4 linked regions of the Homo sapiens genome follow. The protein of the gene in region 4 purifies or fractionates together with the protein of the main gene of each other region. This does not show direct contact. Each region holds a gene or a part of one and is shown on either strand. Other genes may lie near its edges. The genes, in order: RMND5A, MKLN1, ZMYND19 and ARMC8.

Evidence for each region.
Region 1: the proteins of ARMC8 (region 4) and RMND5A purify together in Homo sapiens (affinity purification with mass spectrometry; 7 studies listed by BioGRID and IntAct, with this or other methods). This does not show direct contact.
Region 2: the proteins of ARMC8 (region 4) and MKLN1 purify together in Homo sapiens (affinity purification with mass spectrometry; 4 studies listed by BioGRID and IntAct, with this or other methods). This does not show direct contact.
Region 3: the proteins of ARMC8 (region 4) and ZMYND19 purify together in Homo sapiens (affinity purification with mass spectrometry; 4 studies listed by BioGRID and IntAct, with this or other methods). This does not show direct contact.

What each region holds. Positions count from the first base shown.
Region 1 is NC_000002.12:86,772,267-86,778,554, reverse strand, and holds the end of RMND5A (E3 ubiquitin-protein transferase RMND5A), read right to left. Parts: intron 5,208-6,288; coding exon 5,144-5,207; 3' UTR 514-5,143; downstream 1-513.
Region 2 is NC_000007.14:131,491,871-131,497,164, reverse strand, and holds the end of MKLN1 (muskelin), read right to left. Parts: 3' UTR 533-5,294; downstream 1-532. UniProt on the Homo sapiens protein: Component of the CTLH E3 ubiquitin-protein ligase complex that selectively accepts ubiquitin from UBE2H and mediates ubiquitination and subsequent proteasomal degradation of the transcription factor HBP1.
Region 3 is NC_000009.12:137,581,581-137,587,549, forward strand, and holds the end of ZMYND19 (zinc finger MYND domain-containing protein 19), read right to left. Parts: intron 5,528-5,969; coding exon 5,387-5,527; intron 1,584-5,386; coding exon 1,403-1,583; intron 1,107-1,402; coding exon 963-1,106; 3' UTR 501-962; downstream 1-500. UniProt on the Homo sapiens protein: May be involved as a regulatory molecule in GPR24/MCH-R1 signaling.
Region 4 is NC_000003.12:138,239,266-138,246,302, reverse strand, and holds part of ARMC8 (armadillo repeat-containing protein 8), read right to left. Parts: intron 6,836-7,037; coding exon 6,775-6,835; intron 4,521-6,774; coding exon 4,320-4,520; intron 1,216-4,319; coding exon 1,120-1,215; coding exon of another isoform or gene 1,054-1,119; exon of another isoform or gene 1-1,053. UniProt on the Homo sapiens protein: Component of the CTLH E3 ubiquitin-protein ligase complex that selectively accepts ubiquitin from UBE2H and mediates ubiquitination and subsequent proteasomal degradation of the transcription factor HBP1.

The sequences.
Region 1 (6,288 bases), on a different chromosome or scaffold from region 4:
CTCAGCCAGGTGCAGTGGCTCACGCCTGTAATCCCAGCACTTTGGGAGGCTGAGGTGGGCAGATCACTTGAGGGTCAGGAGTTCGAGACCAGCCTGGCCAACATGGTGAAACACTGTCTACTAAAAATAAAAAAAAATTAGCTGGGCATGGTGGCACATGCCTGTAATCCCAGCTACCCGGGAGGCTGAGGCACGAGAATCGCTTGGACCCAGGAGGTGGAGGTTGCAGTGAGCCGAGATTGGGCTACTGCACTCCAGCCCAGGCAACAGAGTGAGAGTCTGTCTCAAAACAACAACAAAAAACAACTCGGGACACTGCTCAGTCACCTTCTCTTCTCACTGTTGGTGGCACAGAAACACAGTAAGATGGGGACAGATATTTTCTTAAATTCTTGACATGCAGACCCTTAGCAAATACAGACAGCAATTTTCTCTTCTCACAGTCAGCACCTCCCTACTCCCTCCCTCATACCTTTGTCACCTGGCACATTTATACAGACTGGTTCCACAAAACACTTTTTAAATGTGCATTTCTTTAATTTTTAAAAATATACACAGGAAAAGCCATGTGTTTTACATAGGAATACACACATTAACAAAGCATTTCTTATAGTTTTCCAAAACTCTATTATATCAGTCCGAAATTTATAAATTAAATATATCAGAATTCTTAAAGTTAAAATGAATTCCCTGAAACTACTGGATATGCTACTTTTTCCAAAATCAAATGAACAGAGGATATGGATGTGGTTTGTGTTAAATAAGGTTTATTGTTAGCTTTATTGCCTATAGTCTATAAGATGCAACTTTACTGTGCCTTTGCAAACAGGATACATTTCTTAAAAAATTGATCAAAATTTTCCATACATATAGCTCTATATGATAGATTACAGTGCAACACTATTCTCGTTACATAATTATAGAAATACTATAGAACCCAAGAGCACGGGGTAAGCAAAATAAATACAATCCTGAGCCATCTGAACAAGATGATTTGATGAATCCTTTAGTGTAAGTTTAGAAAACACAGAGAAGGAAAAAAATACATGCATACTGCAGTCATGAGCAAAATACATCAAACACCTGTTCCTTGCTAGGTGCAGGTGGGGGCAATGGTGAACTTCAGACACATGCACACTCACTCACACTCCCATTTTCTTCTGCTTCCCTCCCAGCCCCAACACATTCATTCCCGCCCCTTCCCAAAAAAAAGATCAGGCACTAAATCCTAGTGAACCCCACAACTGCCTTGCTGGAGAAGGTTAAGTGACTGCTAAAGTAAGAGTGTATGTAGGTCCTCACCCATAACATGAAACAAAGCATGTGCTGTAAGCCAATTCCAGCTGCTTTTGCCTCTTTGGAAGTAAATGAAGCATATGCCCACTACAGCTTGAAACTGCAGTGGAAATGTCTTGAAAACAAAATTTTGTTTCTCTTGCTATGTCTTGAAGTAAAATCAACAGTGGAAAATTCATCCTAAAACTGCCTCATCTGCTATTAAAATACATTTGTCATTCTATTTTTGGTATCTATTCAATTATAGTTCATTAAGAACGGTTCATGAAGCTTGTACCTGCTTATGGTAAACATCAGTGTACCACACAAAACCTGCCACACCTAGACAGGCTTATGAAACACCAAATCTTCTATGTGTTCCTTGCTAACATTCCCTCAAGACCACAGCATTCTAGTGTTACCAGAGATAAAGTACGTATAGTTAAGTGATGAAAGAAAGGTATTTGGTTTGTGTCGTCACCTTATACATCCTAGTGATGAAACTAACCAAACTATGCCTCCATGCCTTCCCTGAAAATAACCTGAGTCGGCTGACGAAACAGACTGAGCAGCGTGGCTCTCAGTCCACTTTATCAGAGGTTGAGCTGGAAAACCAGAGGGCTAATGTAGTCTACCAGCAGCTTGTGCGGATAACCAAGAGTTCTTGGCTGTTGCAGTATCCACTGTCCCAAAGGCTAAGCCACTGAGGTGGAAATCAATCGCAGCATAAAGAAGACTGAACTTAAGCTGCATAACCTGCGAGACTACCTGGAGAGGACAAAAGAGGATCAGGATCCTCATTTCCCACAAAATGTGGTGTGGGTTTTAGTGTCTCTATGCATTAGCTGCTACAGAGAAGTTAACATTTACTTCATAGCTTTCTTATTTTCAATTAAATGCTCACACTCAAAAAATACACACCCTATGAATATGAGGTGGCTCTTTTCTTCAAATTTTTTAAAATAAAGAGGCACCAATACCCGTTCATTTATGTATTAGAAGTCTCGTATAATCACCAATAAAACAGAAATAGCATCTGTGATCACACAACGGAGAAAAAAGATCAAGAGACAACCTTAGCCACTGTAAAACTGTACTTGAACACTCAGATGCTCTGGCTAAGTCAGAATCTAAAGATTTGCTAATAAGGTTTTATTGGTTTAGCATAGTCCCATGGCCTTTGTCTATAACTGATATGTGGAAACGGTTCCCAAGGAAATTTAAGAAACCATTCTGAAATTCTGCCTTTGATGTACATTATAATTAAATGTGACTGTTATAAACGTTGCCTCTATCATATTATCTTTTGTAAAGTGGAGGCAAAGAGAGACAAAAAGCATCCTCCTGGACTGCTGACATGCAGAAAGCATCAGCGATGATAGGGTTGTGACAGCATTTATGGAGTTTCTAGGGCAGGGGGGACAGAATGCTGTATCTCAGCATCTTTGGTTAAGGTCTGGCCTCTTTAAATCCACCTCTCCCTCACATTTAGTCTCTCATGAATTTTAAGTCCATGCACTTGAAGACGGTCACAAGATATAATTTCCATATAATATGTCAGATTCATAAGAGTTTCAGATTTTTGGTCCTCACCCTGCCCAGTGGGAGTACACGGGCCTTACACAGAAAGCTGCAGAGTCCAATGCTTCAGTTAAAGCATGTTCTTTTCAAAGTTTTCTTGAGCTGCACAAAAAACCGTCAACAGTTTTTTGGCTCCCAGCACTGGGAGAGGGATAAAGCTGAGCTCTGGCTTTTGTCCTTTAAAGTGGCCCAAGCCGACTGTATGAAGAGTCTGGTCATCAAACACATTTACCACCAGCCTTCAGAGTACATCTGTCTCATTCAAACCTTACAGGAAGCCTAAACGTTGTGTAGGTGTTTGGGTGGAAAGATAAGAATAAGCTAAACTTGGCCTAAGGAGAAAAAGGGTAAAAAAAAAAAAAAAAAAAAAGAAAGAAAGAAAAATACAACACTCTAGGTTTTAATTCAAAGGAAAAATATATATATAATAAACTGGTTTACACCCTTGGTCAGACTGTTGCCTGGAATTCTCTACCTTCTCTTTCACAGTCCAAAGAGTTTGTCTCTGTTCTCTTCCTTCACTGCTTTAGCAAAGAGAGGGGGAACTTCAAAGAGGATTCCAACAGTGAAGCAGAATCATGGGGCAAAAGTCGCTATGGGGCCAGACTGAGGTTGGACCACACAAGCACTCCAAGCTGGGCCAATCCCAACCGCTGGTGAAGCCGCACAGCACGGAGTAGCCATCCACATAGGCCTGGCCACATGGTACTCAAGCAGAGGTTTTCCACAGTACTCTTTCTCCTCACAAACAAACCCCAGCTCTCCCAGGTAAACATTTTAGAAAAAACATCCAGGCTGGTGTACTACTGTAAAACGCTGCCAGTTTCTAATTAACTTAGCACCAAATCTGTGATTCCCCCTCCCTCAAACCAAGTCCATCTGTAGTTTAAAATGTGAAGTGCCACATTTCTCTTTGCTTCTGTGTTTTCATTTTCTTTGAAAGTATTCCTATTGATGTTCACTCCATGTCAGAAGAAATAAAGTTGCAAAATATTTGGTGATTTCCGTGTAACGTTCTTCTTATACTGAAGTAACTTCATGGGTTTCGGTCAGAATTATGTCCACAGAAGTCTTTTCCATGTAGTTCGTCATACAGAAAGACTCTTACACATGGCTATTTTTGGACAGTGCATAAATGAAGATACCTCACAAGAGAAAAGATCATTATCTGTATCCATCAGAATAATATACAGATTCACAGTCAATGAGATGATACGCTTTGCAGAAGAGAGGCATCAAACATTATACTATTCAAACACAAAAACAGCAATAAACGTTCTGCACTACAGAAAATTTGCTAGCTTCTAACTTTAAGGATTTAAAGTGATGGGTCTGGTAACTGCATTTTAGAACTGGAACATGCTGCTTTCCTTCCAGATACACAATGTTTGATGCTGGTGCACATATACAATACACACATGCACAACACTGTGTCTGCAATGATATAATAGGGCTACCAAGACCAAGAGAGTAAATATCAACTTAAGAACACTTCTAACTTTAGAATTTCATTTTATTAAACATACTTTTAAAACAAGCACCTCTTGGCAATAAAAGCAAAAACAAAAAACAAACAAACAAAAACCCAACCAAACAATAGTACTCCTTCCACTCTATGCTAACGGAAGACTTCTCACACCAGCCAGTTAAACAATGAAATTCTTAAACACGCAGCCTGCTGGGGCTGCATGCAGAGCTAAAATGCAGGTGTGCTGACTTCTTGGAGCTGGAGCAGAGGAAAACATCAAAAAGCATATCTGGAATCTATCACAGCTTTCTTTCTTAAGCAAATAAAAATGCAAATTAGTTTCATAACCACAATTCAATTTATCAAACTTTTTCTGAAGAATTTTCATTTAATTATGTATACATAACAGGAAATAAAACTTTTTCACAAACACTCTCAAGGCTTACGATTATCAAGAAAATGACAAAAGTAAAAGCAGGAGGAATATTAAACACATGGCGGGGAGGTCAATTTCCGTTTCTGCTCTTAAAAAGTAAAAAAATCACCATATAATTAAGTACAAAAACCTGCATTGAATGACAACTGCTGGTGTATTTACTTGATCAGAAATGAAGACCAAGAATATAATAAAGCCCTATGATAATATTCACCGGGAGCACTCCCCTCAGTGTGTGTACACTAACAGGTTGGCAAAGTTTCTGGAGCATTAGCTTATAGAAACACAGGAGTCCTTGGTTAGCTGCATTATATGGAACGTTCTCTTCTGAAATGCACCCACGATTCAGTTTCACTTACAAATTGCAAACTAAAGTTATCTCTTCAGAAAAATATCTGTTTGGCATCTCCTGGACTTTGTTCCATTGGACAGTAGGGACATTTTAATCTAAAGACAAAGAAGAAAACACTGAGTGAAGGAGCAGGCTCAGTACTGTGTATTCAATTTTTATCTAGTTATAGAGTATCTTTAACAATTATACACACATATAAGAACACACAAAAACAAGTCTGTTTGTATTTTGCTTTGAGGATGAACTATGCTTTCCCTTAATATAACTGCCAAGATTTGAAGGGTCACAAATACATACCACCCATGCCAGATCCTAAATTGTTTCTTAAACAAAACAAAGGTAACTTTTCTGGAAATTGTTTTTGGGGTTTCGAAAATAAATTCAATTTCTCTTTCCCAAAGGTTTAGGTTGCAACAGTCTTTAAATGAATTTCAAATGTACTGGTCACACAATCCATTCAAGGGCAGCAAATCTGATGGCAGCTACAAGCCCACACCAAGAACGGCCCACATGCCTCACAGTGACACATGAAACCAGTACAGCCTGAACTAAGATCAACAATTTTGGCCAGGCAAGGTGGCTCACACCTGGGAGGCTGAGGTGGGTGGATGCTTGAGCTCAGGAGTTTGAGAACAGCCTGAGCGACATGGCGAAACCCTGTCTCTACTAAAAATACAAAAATCAGCCAAGTGTGGTGGTGTGCGTCTGTAATTCCAGCTACTCAGGAAGCTGAGGCATGAAAATTGCTTGAACCCAGGAGGCAGAGGTTGCAGTGAGCTGAGACAGCACCACTGCACTCCAGCCTGAATGATGGAGTGAGACTCAATCGCAAAAAAAAAAAAAGCTGAGCTCACTAACTAAAATAAATTACAAATGCATATATCCTTTGAACCAGCAATTTCAGTTCTAGGAATTTATGTATCAGGTATAGATAATTCACTTAGCACTATGTTTTTTTGTTTTGTTTTGTTTTTTGTTTTTGTTTTTTGAGATGGAGTCTTGCTCTGTCGCCCAGGCTGGAGTGCAGTGGCACAATCTCGGCTCCCTGCAAGCTCTGCCTCTCGGGTTCACGCCCTTCTCCTGCCTCAGCCTCCTGAGTAACTGGGACTACAGGTGTCCGCCACCACACCCGGCTAATTTTTTGTTTTTGTATTTTTAGTAGAGATGGGATTTCAC
Region 2 (5,294 bases), on a different chromosome or scaffold from region 4:
TTATCTGGCATATTTCTCAGCTTAGTTTTTTCAAGATTTGGCCCATAAAGTGTCTTTCCCCTTTAATGGGGACAGGGATCCAGAATTTTCCCAAACTGCAACACTTCTAGGTTCTCTCCCTTTACTATCTTTTCTACAGTGAATTTTCCATTTCAGTTCAGTCTTTCCTTCTAGTTCCAGCCTGTACAAGCATATCCCCTTTAAAGAGGAACATAAGTCCAAGTGGACAAAGCAAATAAAATAAGGGTGGTCATTAACAGTAGATAGAAGAACATTTCATGAAATAATTTACCAGTGGTCTTTAAATAAGTGGAAGCCTCCCCGCAGAAACTTTGTGAGCATGGCCGGTACTTGTTCATCTGAGCACCGTCTCAAAGGAAAACACCCAAAGGCCCTTCGAAAGCGTATCACTTTCCTTTTGGAAGCCTAAATAAAACTCACCTTTCTGGGGGAAAAAACACAACTGTAAAGTACAAAAACATTTTAAAAGTTCACTTCAAAAGTAGTTTGAGCAAATACAAGAGATATCTTGTAGCATCCATATATAACATTTTATTAAGAAAATGAACAAAATACATTCTTTCTCCATATGTACATTACATACAACATAATTCTACAATTGCCATTTTTAGCAGATCACTCATTTATTTATTCACAAAGTAGAATTAACACATTTACCAAAGCTGGGATCTGAAAATTATTTGTACTATAAGAAAAAAAAAATCCTAAAAAGTCCATACAGATTGGATAAAAGATAAGCCAGAGATCATGAGGGGAATGGGGAAGATTGCAGAACACGACAGAGCCCAACAATGATTTGAAACAATTGATGTCAGAAGAGATCTGATACCCATAAAGCACTTCTGTTTAAAAGCTCCAACCAGCTCATGCCAGCTTTCCAGAGTCCCATGATTTCCATTTAAGACCATGTGGATACTTTAGGATACGGCCCTGACCCCACATTGCCACAGAAGAGGGGGTAAGAGTAGAACCAAACAAGTTAGCGGTTTTCTCCACACATTGAGTCTCATCTGAAATACTACTGAGGTGCAAAATGTGTGAATCTCAGCTAATGTGCACAGAAATACAATTTTTTTTGAGAGACATTTGCTTAAACGTGGTAAAGAACTCTTGTTTTATGGACTCCTTGCTTCATGTTCATTTTGTCTGTTTTTCTTTTGGCTTTTGACAATAGCTCATCCTTTTTGAGTGTGAGTTTAATTATGGCCATATTAAAAAGTCCATCATAAACAAAGACTCCTCCTCATGGTATGAATATGCTCCATATGCCCATAATGGTGCATAACGGACTTAGAAATTCCAATGAGTCTTAGGGTTGAAATTTCCAATGACCTGAGCAAGGCAGCTCCCTATAGCTTCTGGATAACATTTTACACCCAGAGTTCAGGCTTAAACAGACCTATCAACACAATTATTTTCGGATTGTCTGTCTAGAAAACGGCAATGCTCAAAGGAATATAAATAAGGGTGGGGGGACATATGCTTCCAGCCTGGTCCTTTCTCCATGTGGTAAAAAACAATGGAATGGCTGTGTTAATTTTTTTTTTAATCTTTTCTGGCCTTTACTATGTTTGGTAATGGAAATAAGTCAGGGAAAACAAAATGAACAGGTCTCATCACTTAATTAATACTGGTTTTTCTTCTTTATACTTAGTAATTTCCTAGTTTTTTAAATGATAAACCTATTTTGACAATCACTAACATCAATACATTTTATCGTAAGTCCCATATAAGATATTTAACATTCTCCAACTTTCGGCTCAGCTGGTTACAGCACCACATTTCCAGTCCAGGAGATGTTTTCACAAACAGAAGGAGCGATTCACAGCATTAATAAGCAGACTTGGAAAGACAGATTTTATTGGCTATGGAGGAAGTTGTATCTTTCTTCTCAATCTAATTTTCAGTCCAATTTTGGTTTTGAGAATCTATCTCTATCAGAGGGGATCTTAATTTCTGACTACTGAGTACTTCCAATTTATAAAAGAGCTGACTTTTAAAAAATTCTAACATCTTTCCCAAACTGTTTAGAAATATGCCATATTTGAAAGACGGAATACTGTTTGTTCCCAAGACCAACACAAGAAAAGGAGGTCCTCATCTTCGCTTTCCTGTACTCTTCCTCTGAGGCTAATAACTCAACTGTACATAGCTTTTGGAGTGGGAGCAAGATAAGAATCTCTTTAAAAAGAGCATTTTAAAAATGTATGTGTATGTGTATGTATGTATATTTATAAAGTATGTACGCATAAAGGAATCTGTTCACAGGAAAATGTTACATTATTTTCAACTCTAAATTATGCAGAAGACTATACAAAGTAGTTAATTAATACTATACTATCTACTTTCTTTTCAAAAGACATTTCACACAAATCCAAAAAGTAAGCCGGCTTAAAGAATAAGACAATCATAACACCTCTTGCCCAGGCTAATTGTAATGCTTAGGAAAGGAAGTCCACTTTTATTTTTCTGAACGGATGATTTGTAAGTAAGGAAGAAAATTGTTTACAATTGATCAGTCACCAAAATAATTTTTTTTTCTGGGAAAGGAAAAAAAATCCCAAGAAAAAGATCAGTACATGACTCTTTAATAAATTTATCTTCCCCCACGGAAGACTACTCCTAAGTAACCTTTTGGACTTTGATATCTTATTAAATTTGGGAGTGAGTTGATAATTACTTGGTATTATTTATAACTTGGTATTATTTGAGGCAACACACTACAGCTGTCACTTGCAAACACCTGATGGCATGGCTCTAATGGTGTAGGATCCTCTCCTTTGTTGTAACTGAATTTATAAAGATTTATAAAGCTCTGCCAGTTGCAATGGGATTGGGATTTATTCTACACGCCTCCTCTAATTTAATCAATCACTTTACAGATGTGGAGGAAACCTAAATAAAAAACCAAAATTATGAAATACTTCTAATGCCAAACCCAGATCTCATTATTGCTTGGCAAAGCAGAATTAACAGAGACCCTTGGGATGACATATAATTAATTTAAGGCAAGGAAACTAGTATCAGTTCAATTCTGTGTTACAAGTTATACATGAAATGACAATTTTCCTCCTATGTTAAAGGGCTAGAAAATAAAACCAACCAAATGACATGAGCTAAACTGTAACAAAGGCTTTCTTGAGATTTGTTAACAACGGAGAAATAAAGCTCAAAATTGGCTTTTTGAGTGGCTCCTTATTCATGCACACAGGCTTGTTCAGTATATCACACAGTGTTTCTTCTTCCTGCCAATTAATTTGGCATTCATTAAGTAATGAATGAAACTGAAGAATGATGATCTCCTCAGGCTTTGTGTGGCAGACAGCTCAGATATCTGAGCTAACTGCTGTGACTGCTAGCATCCCAGATGGTACAGAGCTATGTTGCAGCAAGAGCTTAAACTCAGTGAATAAGCAAGGGAGCCCCCAAACTGCATGTTGAAATGTTTTATGGCTGGTTTTCCTGCTGGATCCTTAACAAGGAACTGGTTGTATGTAAGAAGCTGCTCACCTAGTTTAAGATCTAGAGCCCATTAACACTGGATTTTCTGTTTTAAGATCTCAAACAGTTATTTGGAAGAAGGGAAATGCTACTTCCCAAGAAATGCTACTTCCCAAAGACTATTCAGAATTACTGAATATTCTAGAAGCATGAGCTTTGAGGCCTTTTGGTAGTCTTCTTCCCAGCATCTCATTAACAAAATTATTTTAGGGTTAGAAATGAAGAAATTTATTTTTCCTTTCGATTTGTGGACCTCTAAAATCCATAAGCAAAAAGCTCCTATTTTTCCTTCTCTAACATACCCTCATTGTCTTCTCTAGCTCGTTCCTGAAGTTTAATACTTCCAAGTCAAAATGCCTTAGATAAGCAAAATAGGACTTTGCACACAAATGTTTAATAGTTCACTGAGGCTGTCTGAAAAGCAGATAAAAAGGAAGACATTATTTTATAATTAAAAGTGATACCTTAGAACTGGTCCAATTCCCTACCAAACATTTCCCCTTTTTTGCCATTGATCCTACAGCTTTCAGACAACATTCATGTTAAATTCTGTTTTCCAGCAAGCTCAGCAGTGTTTGGGGATAGACAGCACATTGCAAATCTTATTTCCAAATAATGATTCTAATTAAGAAGATAAACTAGGACTACCCTTTCATTTTTGTGTTTTTAAGCTGTTAAGTGGGATCCAGTTCACAATATAAAACTTTAGCCAAAAAGACAGTGATAATTTCCCCGATGGCATTTCTCTCTGCACCACTAGAGAAACTAATTTACTATAACCTCTAATGACTCCTTAGGTTAAGGGCTACAGAAGCTACCGTCAGATGATTTCATTGGCTATGACTGGCCTAAGAGTTAGTCATTTGGAATTGGAGCTAAATTCACATTCTTTTTTTTTTTTTTTTTTTGAGACAGGGTCTTGCTCTGTTGCCCAGGCTGGAGTGCAGTGTCGCAATCATAGCTCACTGCACCCCAAACTCCTGGGTTCAAGTGATCCTCCCACCTCAGCCTCCCAAGTAGCTGGGACTACAGGCACATACCACCACACCTGGCTAAAAAACAAAAATATTTTAAGTAGAGATGGAGTCTTCCTGTGTTGCCCAGGCTGGTCTGAAATTCCTGGGCTCAAGCAATCTTCCCGTGTCAGCCTCCCAAAGGTCTGGGATTACAGGCGTGAGTCACTATGCCCAGCCTAAATTCACATTCTTGAGGGGAAGAGACATATATAAGGCTGCATTATTTTTATTTAAGGAAAAAAAAAGAAAAAGAAAAGCAATCATTTCATGGCAACTGAAGCCACTTCTAATATTCAACTATTTCAGAAGTTTAAAGTCAATTCTTAACACAAATTCTAACTTCAGCAGAAATCAATGTTACTCATGGGAGGTAGGAATAGAAACAAAAAGGTTAAAAAATACAATAAAAAGAAAAGACAAAAGGTAAATGGAAATTCTGATGATATGCTGAATTCAGGAACTCTGCTATCAAACCTGTACTTTACCAATAGTTCTATGACAAGAGATCCTAATGCCAGAAAAAGAGGCCAACACAGGTTTCTCCATTAAAGCTGCCACAGCCATTATTACTATCCCCAAATGAAAATGACTCAAGTACATTTATAGCAATATCTGAATGTTATTAATTTCTTATGAATTTCATTATTCTCTTGTCATAAATAAGGATAATAGAGCATTTGCCCCAGAATGATTTTGATCTTTTTTTTTCCAAGCAATACAATGTCCTACAGAATGCCACAGAAAATCTAGGAAGTC
Region 3 (5,969 bases), on a different chromosome or scaffold from region 4:
CAAGATGCTGACCAGCCCCAGACACCTGGGGCTCCCCAAGGAGAGGGAGGGCTATCCTGGAAACCACAGCCCTGCAGACGGACGGAGAAGTGAGACCCTCACCTCACCCTGGCTGGCCAGCCCCCTCCACCATCTGCAGCAGGCCTGCTGAACATGCCCTGTGGATTCTTCTGGGCAGAAGCTCACTGCTGAGCTCCCAGCCACTTCATGCATAAATCAGGCAAGAACTAACCAATGTCAGGGGCGAGAGCATCCTACTCCCCATAAAACAGCGGGCAGCTGACTTAGCAACCCCACCACTCCTGCCGCAAGACAAGGACAGAGTCTCACTCATACTCCCTGCTGGACTCAGGAAGGTCTGAGCTCACCCGCTCCTCAGAAGGGCCCACCAGGAACAAGGGTCCTCCTGCCTCACCCACAAGGACTCGGCTCCACTCAAAATGACCTCACCCTAAGCAGCACAAGAGGGAGGCGGAGCAGAGAATGTCCGAGAGGCCAGATGATTCCACCCCTTTACTTTGCCTTTGTGGACACAACTCCCGTGCAGGCCGCGCTCCACGGGGCTCCCGGCGGCCCAGGGGAGAAGCTTCGACAACAGGACAGTTTTTAGTCACGTGGCCTGACCGTTTGCCATTTAAGGATTACAGCAAATGATTCTATTTGTAATTTCTACCCTTCCCATTGCCTCCCCCCCAAAAAAAACTGTACATGAGTTTACAAACATATTAACATATAAATAATGAGAACCGTCCTGGTGGGAGCCTCCTCCGTTGTCTCTGCTGGAGATGAACACTGAGGGGCGCTGTAACCACACAGACTGCCTGTGACATCGGGAGTCTCACGGCAGCTGTCCTGGGCCCGCAGCTGGCTTTTTTGGCACCTCCAGGTTCAACCACCAGTCTGTCTCTGCTGTGCCCAGGGTAGAGCCCGGGGGCTGTGAGTATGTGTGGCTCCCCTGCCCGTCATCGCTCTGGCTCAAGCTCATGCTGGAAGGGACGCTTCCTCTCCCGACAGTGCTTCTTGTGGGCAGGCCAGTCCTTCTGCTGGCACTGGGAGCCGCAGTACCGGGCCACCTGGCAGCGCCCACAGATGTTGAACTCCCGGAGCTGAAATACAGAACACCTGTGGCTTCACCATCATGCCTGGGACGCAGTGTGGGGCAAAGGCTGCGTCTTACGGACAATCTGACGGACCCAGCAAAACACCACGTACCAAGGCTGGAGGGCCTGGGCCCTGGTCAGGCCAGCACAAGGGCAAAGGGAGACCACTCTGGTGGAAAAGCCCAAGAGGTGCTAAGCGGTCTCTGGGGAATGGGACCCCGCGGTGGAGGGCAAGATCCCAAACCAAGGCTGGGCTACAGGGTAGAGGTGCCAGGGACGCGACCGCACTGCAGCACACCCACCTGCTTCTCAATCACTGTGCAGGGAGGGTAGTGGCACTCATAGTAGGTGCAAGAGTTCTCCTCCTCTTCCACTACATCCCCGTTGGCATTATAATACCGGGTCACATTTAGGACAGGAAACTGTTCTTCTATAGGGTCTGTAGGCAGCTGCTGAATTGCAAGCCAATACAAGCTTTGCTCCCTTAAAGAAAGAAGCAGACACTTGAGTGCACTCTGGCCAAACGGGGCCAGCACACAGCAGACGATGCAATGACTCCATAGAGTGCCATCCTGCCCAGGACACCCAGCCCGAGTTTGAGTCTCCTTTGGCCCATCCCTGCTGCATGTGCTTTTCACCACCTGACAGTAAATATTGTGTCTCATCTTCCCACTAACCCGTAAGCATGGCCTCATCTATCACCCTCTCCCCAGCACCTGGGACTGACAGGCACACAGTAGGCAGGAGACAGGGCCCAGGTCAGGCCCCTGTGCAAAGCGAGGCGGCCCCTCTCCTTGCCCTTGACCTGCAGAGGTGCCCATTACTGCCCCGTCGGTCCACTTCCCCTTCCATACCGGGAGCTGCCCTACGTCCGTCTAAAAACTCCTCCTGCTTGAGTAGGCCAGATGCCTACAACGGGAGAGTTCTACCAAGAACGGAGCCTCAAAGGCATGTGCACTGGCTGCTCAGAGGCAAGCGTGGGCAGCCCCAGCCCTGCTGCATCACGGAGTAAAGAAGCTGCATAAACCACCCCACCAACCCCGTTCTCCGAAGCCAGACCCTGAGGAGACTTGGTTAAAACGGGGAAGGATCAGGACATGGGAAGATGTTGGTGAGGTCCCACCAGACAGAGGCAAGTTTCAGACACTGCTGGCTTCTGAAGACAGAACAGGAAAACACCCCTTTGCCAAGAGGCCCCTTTTGTGGGGGCTGAGCTGACACAGTGCCAGGAAAGCAAAGCAATAGCCCAGGCCTGACAAAGACAGGGTGACCCCACCACAAAGAGCCGGACCACAGGGAGGCCACAGACTGGGATCCAGACGGACGCACAGCACCCAGCCAGTCAACAAAGACAGGGTGACCCCACCACAAAGAGCTGGATCACAGGAGGCCACAGACCAGGATCCAGACGGACACACAGCACCCAGCCAGACAGGATGTCAGGCCCACACTGGCCAGCTCTGACTTCTGCTCGGGGCCTGGGGTGCTGACCCAGCACAAGAGGCCCAACACCTGCTGGGTTCTAAAACCCCATGTTGGCAAACCAAAGATGGCTGAGCCTGATCAGTCCTGAGCCACCCCAGGCCCACCTCCTGTAGCAGGGGGTTGTGTAAGGCAGCAGCCCCAGCGCAACTCGTCCTGCTGTGCCCTCAGAGAATGGGCATCCTGCCGTGCCCACAGAGAATGGGCTGACCAGGAGCATCAGCCCAACACCCCCTTTCCAAACGGCTGTTCTTAACGGCAGTTATCTCCTCTCCTGATTATAAAGGGTGCTGAGAGGATTCAAGGTAACATTCAGTCACAGGCTGGCCGGACCCTGAGTCTTGTTGAGAACCGGCTGAAATGACCCGCACCATGGCAGGGACAGAAGGCATTGCCAGGTGGAGTGGTGAGCAGCGGGCGAACTTGCGGAGTTGGGAAGGGCCCATCCCAGCATCAACACTGAGCATGTATCAATGTGGGACAACGCAGGAGGAGATGCTACAGATGCTGCTCTGCCTGCCAAGCACGCCTTCCCCTTCCCCTTCCCTTTTCATGTAGAAAAGTGATTCTAAGCAAGCTAACTACAGTTCATCCCAGGGCTTCCCCAGACACCACTAGAACAGGGTGCCTGCTTCAGTCCGCAAGTGCTAGGTAGTGCCCATGCCGCCTCCCAGAGAGGAGCCGGGAGTGGGGGCGCAGAGCTGGAGGCAGCAGCATCCCTGGCTCTCCACATTTCAGTCAGGATACCAAAATGTACCCTATTTTTGTTTCAGCCAAATTGACCTTTGTTTCTGTTTCTTGCAACCCAAAGTTCCAACTAACATAATCCCCGAAAGAATAAAAACCCCATTCAACAATCGTAAGAGGCCTGGCTTCACTCACAAGCAGTATGAGGAAGGTCAAAACTCTAATATTAGAGCAAGGACCGGGCGTGGTGGTGCACACCCGTAATCCCAGCTACTCAAGAGGCTGAAGCGGGGCCAGGCGTGGTGGCTCACGCCTGTAATCCCAGCACTTTGGGAGGCTGAGGCAGGCGGATCACCTGAGGTCAGGAGTTCAAGACCAGCCTGGCCAACATGGCAAAATCCCACCTCTACTAAAAATACAAAAATTAGCCAGGCGTGGTGGTGGGCACCTGTAACCCCAGCTACTAGGAAGACTGGGGCAGAATTGCTTGAACTGGGCAGGCAGAAGCTACAGCGAGCCAAGGTCGCGCTACTCCAGCCTAGGCAACAGAGCCAGACTCCGTCTCAAAAAAAAAAAAAAAAAAAAATGCTGAGGCAAGAGGATTCCCTGAAGCCAGGAGTTCAAGAACAGCCTGGGCAACATAGTGAGACCCATCCGTAAAATTAATTAATTTAATGAAATAAACAGAGCAGGGAAAAAAAAACACCAGCCCAACAAGAACGAAAGACACTTCAGGCTCTGCCTTCGTCCTGAGAGGCCCAGTGAGGAAGGGATGGGGGGGGATTTGTAGGACTCCCTCCAGGGTGGCAGGAACAGCAGTTTGGGAGTGGCATTTTGGAGGCCTGGGGACTGTCCCCACATCACCAACCAGTGTGTCAGGTGCTCCCACTGTTTCCACCTCGGCTGCCCAGGGCTCTGGCATGACTCTGAGGTGACAACTGCAAAGATTCTACCCACAGCCACCAACCATCACCAAGCCCGAAACACTAAACCTTACCAGCGTTGCTGACAACCATCTGCTAGGGCAGTTCGCACTGCCTGCACCAGGAAAGGCTGCCCAGAGGCTTGAGGACGTGCCCAAAAGCCCCAGGGCGCCAGGGGAACATGTCAGTGAAGCGTGTGTGGCTGGGGACTCCCTGGCTCAACTGGGCTCCCAACCCCTATCCTGCTGGTCCCTTGGCTCTTCCCAAGGGCTCCATGAAGTTCACAGACTGGCTGGTTCTAGGGCCAGCAGGAACCGCCCTCCCAGGTGGGAAGCCCATGCAAAGCACTGCTTTCAGGATCACAGGCAGGTCGGGGGCCGAGGGCTGAGCCCTGAACCATTCTCCGCTTTAAACCTTTGCTTAAGGAAAACTGTTTAGCAAAAGAACACAACAAAAAGACCCATCTGTGTGCACAGAAAAGAATCCTGAGGTGAGGAGAGAAGGAAGGAATCCTGAGGTGAGCAGAGAAGGAAGGAATCCTGAGGTGAGCAGAGAAGGAAGGAATCCTGAGGTGAGCAGAGAAGGAAGGAATCCTGAGGTGAGCAGAGAAGGAAGGAATCCTGAGGTGAGGAGAGAAGGAAGGAATCCTGACGTGAGCAGAGAAGGAAGGAATCCCGAGGTGAGGAGAGAAGGAAGGAATCCCGAGGTGAGAGAAGGAAGGAATCCCGAGGTGAGAGAAGGAAGGAATCCTGAGGTGAGAGAAGGAAGGAATCCTGAGGTGAGAGAAGGAAGGAATCCTGAGGTGAGCAGAGAAGGAAGGAATCCTGAGGTGAGGAGAGAAGGCTGATGCCTCCCAGGGGTGTGGGGCAGAAGCCCTGCTCACACCGAGTCCCGACGCTGGCCCTGCCCTGGAGCAGGCAGCCCTTCTCCCCACTGTCATGCCAGCTAAAGGGAGGTTCCCAGAGCCAATTATAAGAGGAGCAATGCAAAAACACACACCATCAAGATCCTTCCCGCTCCCATGAAGAAAAGGAGGATTCCACGCTTTGGGGAAAAACAATGAAATTCCCAAAATACACAGAAGCATCAGGGCTCAGAGGAGGAACAGGAGACCCTCTTGGAAACAAGAGCTTTGGCGGTGGCCCTCCTCAAAAGGCGCCTCTGCTGGCATCGCCAGGCCCTGAGAAGACCCACCTCTGCTTGCTGGAGGTCTCTTCAGCCTTGGGCCGCCAGCCCCACGGCACCAGTTGCAGGTTGTCCAGGCGATTGTCCACGGTCACAGCGTTGAGGTGCACCACCTGGAAGCCCGGGGCCACGCCCCCCCGGTGCCGCTCCCTAGAAACAGACAGCAAACCCTGCATCTAACCCTGCATCGCTGCCTCCCACCCTCACAGACATTTCTGGTCAGGTACCAAAGTCCTTCCAGGAAGAAATGTCAGCCATGTGATCTGATCGGGCCCCTGGTCCTTTGGATGAGGGTACCTCAGGCGGAAGCTGCTGAGAGAAACCCAAGCACCTGATCTGTGGCCCAAACAGGACAGGGACACAGGGAGGACCCGGCCCCTGGACTTCAGAGCACAGACAGCCAAAGCTGGAACGCAAAACCACCTAAGCAGATGGCCTCGAGACAGCTCCCCATCTGAGTGGTCCCTACCATGCACACCGGGGGGGCTCGGCAAAACCCAGCAAGGGGAGCAACCACCGTCCCTCCAGAGGCTGCCGGTCCTGGGCAAGCTCCCAGCAGAAAGTCCACTTGGTGTTTGAAGTGCAACATACA
Region 4 (7,037 bases):
ATCTTGTTAACTGAAATAAAGTGAGGTACATGGAAACATTCAATTTATTAGTTGTGCTTTTTGCATTGATTTTAAATCAAAGCTACTCACACATCAAATCTTATTGCTATTACTTCAGTTTCTTCAAGAAATGGTTCCTTTTCAAGTTATTTCAACAAATGTAAGGTTGTTCCATACTCCTCTTTCTACAGGCCTGAAGAACTTCTCTGAATCATGGTAAACTCTAATACTTTGTGATTTCTCTCACAGTGCTCCTTAAAATACTAATGCAGATGGAGAGATTTAGTAAATCATCATGTTCAGTAAATAATGACTAATTTGCTCTTTCTGCTATGGCTCCTCAAGACAGAACATGTGGTTTTGCTCTCTGATGGTCTTGAAAGCCTTGTGTAGAATTTATTAGGTTATACATGTTTTTGAGTGGTAAGTTCCAGCTTTTTGGTTTGTGGAAGGAGCCAAGTCAGAGCTTACTTACCACTATACTCCTCATCTAGAAGTATTCTCATCAAGAACATGAGTTCAGTGTTAGACTAGGCTTTAGTAACATAAGGGTGCTATACCAGTGCATACATTTTCTGGGGAGCTGGAAAATTCAGATGACCACTCACTAAACATAAAATCATCATTCCACAAAGATTTTATTCACATTAAACTTGCACAGTAGCAAAAAAAATCAAAACATAAAACTAAGCCACATATCAAAGAACAATATACAATAGAGATTTGAATTTCTCAATAGCATTGGAAGGTATTTCCATAAATAACATTTACAATTCTAATGTTAGGACTTTCAAGGTGTCTGAAGCTTCACAGTGCTAGAATTGATTTTTATCAGAACACATGCAAAAATGTGCAACATAATAATTCATATTAATGACACAAAAAAAAAGCACGCCAGTTATTTGTCATTCCAGCACGGCCATGCCACTCTATGTTCTAAAAACAAACAAACAACCCCCCAAATCCGGGTCCCATTCATTCTTCAATTATGCCTTTAGTCACTCTGCTTTATTATATTCAAACAGTCACTGTTAGTGCTCTTCACCACGACTTTCAGGTTGACGTCACTCCCTGCCTGCTGGCTGTCAGGACTGGGGGACGCCCCTCTCCCAGACTCACCTTCTTCCGGATGTCTTCATCATTTGCTCCAAGAGAGGCATAGAGCTTGAATGCAGCCTGGCGGAGTTCGTGAGCATGTTTTAAATCATGATCAAGCTATGGGGAAAAAAAGGATATGTTCCAACTCAGTCCATAAATTCAACTTTCAATAACATTAACTGAGTTGAAGAAAAAAAAAGTTTACAACTTTTAGATTTTAGTGAATTTCCCAGTCATTAACTACATTTCCCAGTTATTTTTGGATTCTGTTCACATAGCACTGAGACTTTGCAGTGTTCGTATCAATGTGACCTAAAATGCACACAATATGCTTCCATTTAAAAGTGAACACTATATTTGACACTGATATATGAAAAACCATTGTGAATCTCTGACTCCGAAAAATTCAGTGTTCCTAAATGGTAGCTTTACTGGCACTAATGCTTGCTTGCAGCAGCTCTTTGAAATGTTCTCCTTCAAAAGAAGGCACACCTGGACTTCTCTAGCCCCAGACTACAGCTGATAACCTGAATGAAATCGCAACAATGTCTTTAGGAGGGTTCCCTTAATTTTCTGAAACATTAAGAGTAGTGCTGGCCTAATTTTGGCATTTAAAAAGCTTTTAGAGGCCGGGCGCGGTGGCTCACGCCTGTAATCCCAGCACTTTGGGAGGCCGAGGCAGATGGATCATGAGGTCAGGAGATCTAGACCATCCTGGCTAACACGATAAAACCCTGTCTCTACTAAAAATACAAAAAAATGAGCTGGGCGTGGTGGCAGGCGCCTGTAGTCCCAGCTACTTGGGAGGCTGAGGCGGGAGAATGGTGTGAACCCAGGAGGCAGAGGTTGTAGTGAGCCGAGATCGCGCCACTGCACTCTAGCCTGGGCAACAGAGCGAGACTACATCTCAAAAATAAATAAATAAATAAAAATAAATAAAATAAAAAGCTTTTAGAAACAGAGAACCCATTGTGAAAATGCTTAACAAACCGTATACTATGGTAACCATTATTATCTATTACAGTTATCTGAGATTTATGTTGGGTATGGGTTTTTTCAAGAACATTATCAAAATTATCAGCATGAAGCAATTAATGGTATCTTTAAACATGCATAACTAATTATCAACTCTTCTATAAACTTGATCACCAAACTACTGTAAAGATAAAACAGAAGCATATTTTCAGGATACTTTCAATGACTGACTATGACCAAGTAACTATACAAAGTCTACCAATAATATAAATAACCTCGTAACTAAAAGCCTTAATGTAATCATCCAAATGAATACCACTTTTCCCAAAGAAGTTACTTTGGAAAGGTTCACTCATCCAATGATGTAGGTGTTGTTCATAACATTCTGAGACCCTCTTTTGAAACTTCCTAAAGAGCTAACTGGTATTATTAGCTAGAAAACACTGACAGTGGTATAGCTTGATCAATGATGAGACTTTTAGTTGTCACTGACTGTGTGTGAAGATGGAGAAATTCAGTTGGGTAATATAACGTAGGTAACAAAAAATTCCACAGAAAGCAAAAGACAATATATATATTTTACATATATATATAATTTGGGGTGGCTCTGAAGGCAATTCTTAATAGTTCCAAAACTTCTGTTCAAAGCAGACACTGATGGATTATAGGAAGAACTTCCCAATACAGAATACTCACTTTGATAAGTTCTAAAAGTATCTACTCTTAAAGTCTTAACTACATTCTAGTCATAAATTAAGATATAATACTGACTTGAACTAACATATCATGAAAATCACAAATTTATTAACATGTGAAGATTTCTCTTTACGGGTCTAGTGTCTATACTTTTCGGGTCAGAAACCTTTGGATAATCCATCATCAAAAATAAAGATGACAAAACAAACTATTACTCAAGTTTGGTATTACGATGTCATTTTTAAGGATTATTGTTGTTACAGTTTTACTCTGATGGAAATGAAATGGAAAAACTAACAGAAGGGATAATCTACGTACTAGTTAAATGATTTGCATATGCATAGGCTACATGTTCTTAAAATTGTTTCCTTACTCTCATGGCCATCAAAACATTTTATTTGCCTTCCTGGGGTGGTCAACTCAGGGCGTTCATGAGGCAGTAGCTAAGGGTTGCTCATGTATCTTTGTATTGGTAAGATACAGTGTCAGTGTGAAAAAATGACCAGAAGGAAAACAGACAAGGCAACTGGTTAAATGTATGTAACCCATCACTTCTACTGGAAAAACACCACTACTGAAAGAAGAGCAGACACATAAGTTTAATACCCAGAGAGTAGAGTACATTACTAATACAAATACCAGTGAAGGTTATTTTAGGCCCTTCTTAAGACAGAGTAAAGATATACCCTTAATAGTTTGCTTTATTTTCAAAGTTAAAAGCCAAATGAACAACTGCCTACCAAATGAGGTTTTTTGAAACTCAAAAGCATGAGGGAGAGGTCAAAAGGAGAATAGTTACCATTGGAACCACTGGCATGAAAAATACAGTTACATTCATGAAACAGTACTGGCTACTAATTAAGAGGCAATGTTCTCTCTACCATGACCTCCTTGAATAAACTTTCTCTTACAGAATGTTCATCTCCTATGCTTAAAGAAATGGATAGGGCAAACAGGCTGAGATGCAACAAGTCAAAATAAATACCGATCTATTCTAAGGAACTTAGGTTTTCAGAAAAAGCACAATTTGGCCTTTTTGGTCCCAAATTCAAGATTAAATGATGCTTTAGCTGTCACTAGCAGGCCCAAAGCACAGTATGAAACTGGGAAAAAGAGAAGATAGGGAAAGGTAACAAAATAGACTGTGGTGGAAAGTAACATGGGACAACTTAGTCTCCTGTAACAAAAAGATTACTCCTGACCTAAAGAATGAGAATGTAACAACAGAGATGATTCCATGACCAAGAATAAGATTATACGGTTATGTCAATACCCAGCTTGGAGAATCCACTACTTTTGAGGTTTAGTTGGGGAGTTAGGATGCAATTTTCTTTATTGCTTATCTGCTCAGTAAAAACTTTCTGACAATAAACATTAAACAACTTGGATTCAAAAATTCACAAAGCAATATTATCTATGTTACCAAAGATAAAAGAACCTTTATTTAAAAGGGCTTTAAGCTGTAGTTATCAATTGGTTCAAAACTGTGAACAGTAAGAAAAACTTTAGAAAAATCTCCCTTGAGCTGCTAAAAAAGGAAAATAACATACCCTTTTAATATCAGTGATGGCACTCACTGAGCTGGGATACTTGAAATAATCAGCAAGCATGGCAATGAGGTGATCAGTTATGCTAGCGATTCTCTGTAGCTCAACATCTGGTTCAATCAGATAGGCAAGTGTCTCAGCTCCTTCAACTCTCTCCTCTAGTAATCTCTCCTTACTGCACATTCGAACCAAACAAGGTAATGTCTGAAAGGTAGTGAGATTAATTATTTGCTTTTTGGTAAAGGTAAAAGCTTAAGCATATAGTGACTGAATCAACTCAATAGCTTTTATCAGGAGTAATGTTTATGATCATATATTTCCTTTACTGACTTCTAGAGAATAAAAGATTTTTTTAAAATGCAAAAACAAGCAAAATTCAGTACACATTAATAATTTGTACTGGCACATTAAACTCTATTCGTACGTCAAAGTATATTAATACAAATTCTAATTAGGCTTTTGGGACCGATAAGACAAGTTTTATTGTACAACTTTGTAAAAGACATTTAAGAATCCCTAACAAATCATGTCTGATGGTTCTGCCCTATCTATCTATTTATTTACCTAAAAAAGACCCAGCAGTTTAATCAGGAATGATTTTGCCTTAGGAAAAGTATGCTATCTCTTCCTTAGTGAGTAATATCGTTTATTTTTTGGTTTGGGGAGTCATACCTACAGTTGCCAAAACAAAATACAGCTTTAAAACTGCAGTGATCTTACCATTACTCAGATTCCACCAGTTCTACTATAATGCAACTGAAATGTATCACAGTTGCTAGGTTTTCCCAGTAACTTGCTGGAATTAGCAGTGGTATCCATGAGTCCAATTTTACTTCTGAGGTCCCTCAAAAATCTTGGCAATGGTTTGGTAACTTATCTACATTAGGTTCTCAATAAAAATATTACAGACATTTACTATTTCTTTTTCTTTTTTTTTGAGACGGAGTCTCGCTCTGTCGCCCAGGCTGGAGTGCAATGGCACGATCTCGGCTCACTGCAACCTCTGCCTCCTGGATTCAAGCAATTCTCCTGCCTCAGCCTTCTGAGTAGCTGGAATTACAGGCACCCACCACCACTCCTGGCTAATTTTTTATTTTTAGTAGAGATGGGGATTCACCAGGTTGGCCAGGCTGGTCTCGAACGACATTTACTATTTCTAAGCCTGACGGATCCACTTGAAAGGACAATGTGGAAGTATAAATTGAAATGTTATCATTATAGAAAGTCTTCCTCAAATACTGCAGGCAACTGTGCTTTGCTCTTTTATATATAATAAGTTCCTATTATATCTTTTACCACAGAGCTTAGCACTTCATCGTTCACTACTAATTTCCTATTAGGCTAGTAGAAGCTTTATAATTCAACCCTAGGTTTCCAAGGGGAAGGCCCTATTCTTTTTTCCCTAACATTACTAGTTACTAATATTTATTGATACCATAAATTCATGAATTATGTAATCTAATGCTCATGACTACTATGTGAAGAATATACTACTAACATTTTACCAATGCAGAAAAAGAGGAAGGTTAGAGAAGTAAATAAATCAAGATAAATGCTATGGAAGTCCGTGGCACTCTATGAAGAGTTGTTTACTTAGGGAGTGTTCAGATCTCATTAAATTAATTCTCTTCCCCAAAGACTAAAGCAAATATTAGTCTTCTTTGTGCTCTTTTATCCTTGGGATCACCTTTTGAACAATGATAATGTGAGATCTCATATTTATAAAATGACACATCATCAATTTACTTATACTTAATTTTTTATAGCTAATAAGACATTTTAATGTATTTAATATATTGTTATCCTCACAATAACCCTGTGCATAGATGAGCAGGAATTATTGCTTCAATTTTCATAATCTGGAGTCCGAGGCATCAAAAGAATAAAGGATGTACAGTCAGAGGTGGGAGTGCTAAAACCAGAATCCAGGTTTTAGGACTTTTAGGGCTGGTCTTTTCTCCAGGTTTTTCTAAATTCAAGTTGTATATGACATATCACAATGACAATGCTTGTTTTCATGTGTTATCTACTTATTCTCTTTCATTATGCCTTTTGATTATCAGCTATGAGAATGATATAAAGTCTTTTTCTGCAAAAGTGGCAAATCGTCTGCCTCTAAAACTGTAGTACAAATTTAATGACAATCAAGAACGAAATATATTTTCTGTTTCACCTGAATTGTACACTTTTACAATTTCCACATCCTCCTAATTACCATAAAATGAAAGGCTGTGACAATGAAATAATTATTTCACGCTGACTTTCGAAACACATCTAAAATCAATTTTTAAAAACTATATGACATCCACTGAAAAGAAAGCATGGTCTTTCAATATTATTCTACGCCATGCACATATATCATAATGATAAATGTGTAAAATGAAATATGAGTATCAATACTGATATTTAACACATAACTGGATAATTTTCACATTTTAAAGATAATTAATTAGCTTACCTTTAATACAATACAGTTATCATCTGTCCGAATTGCTCCAGCTCTACACATGTAAGTTAAACTGGAATAAGACAGCAGAAAATAAGTTTTTGCTTGGAGTTTAAAGCTTTAAATGAAAAATTATTTGCCTTTAAGATTTTATTAAAAAATCGAAAACCAAATAATATCACTTATCTTGAGAGTGAAGATTTTGACAATTCGCTTTTCGGAGGTTCAGTCAATTTAATAGTCAAAGAAAACTAACTGACAAATACAGATGGTAA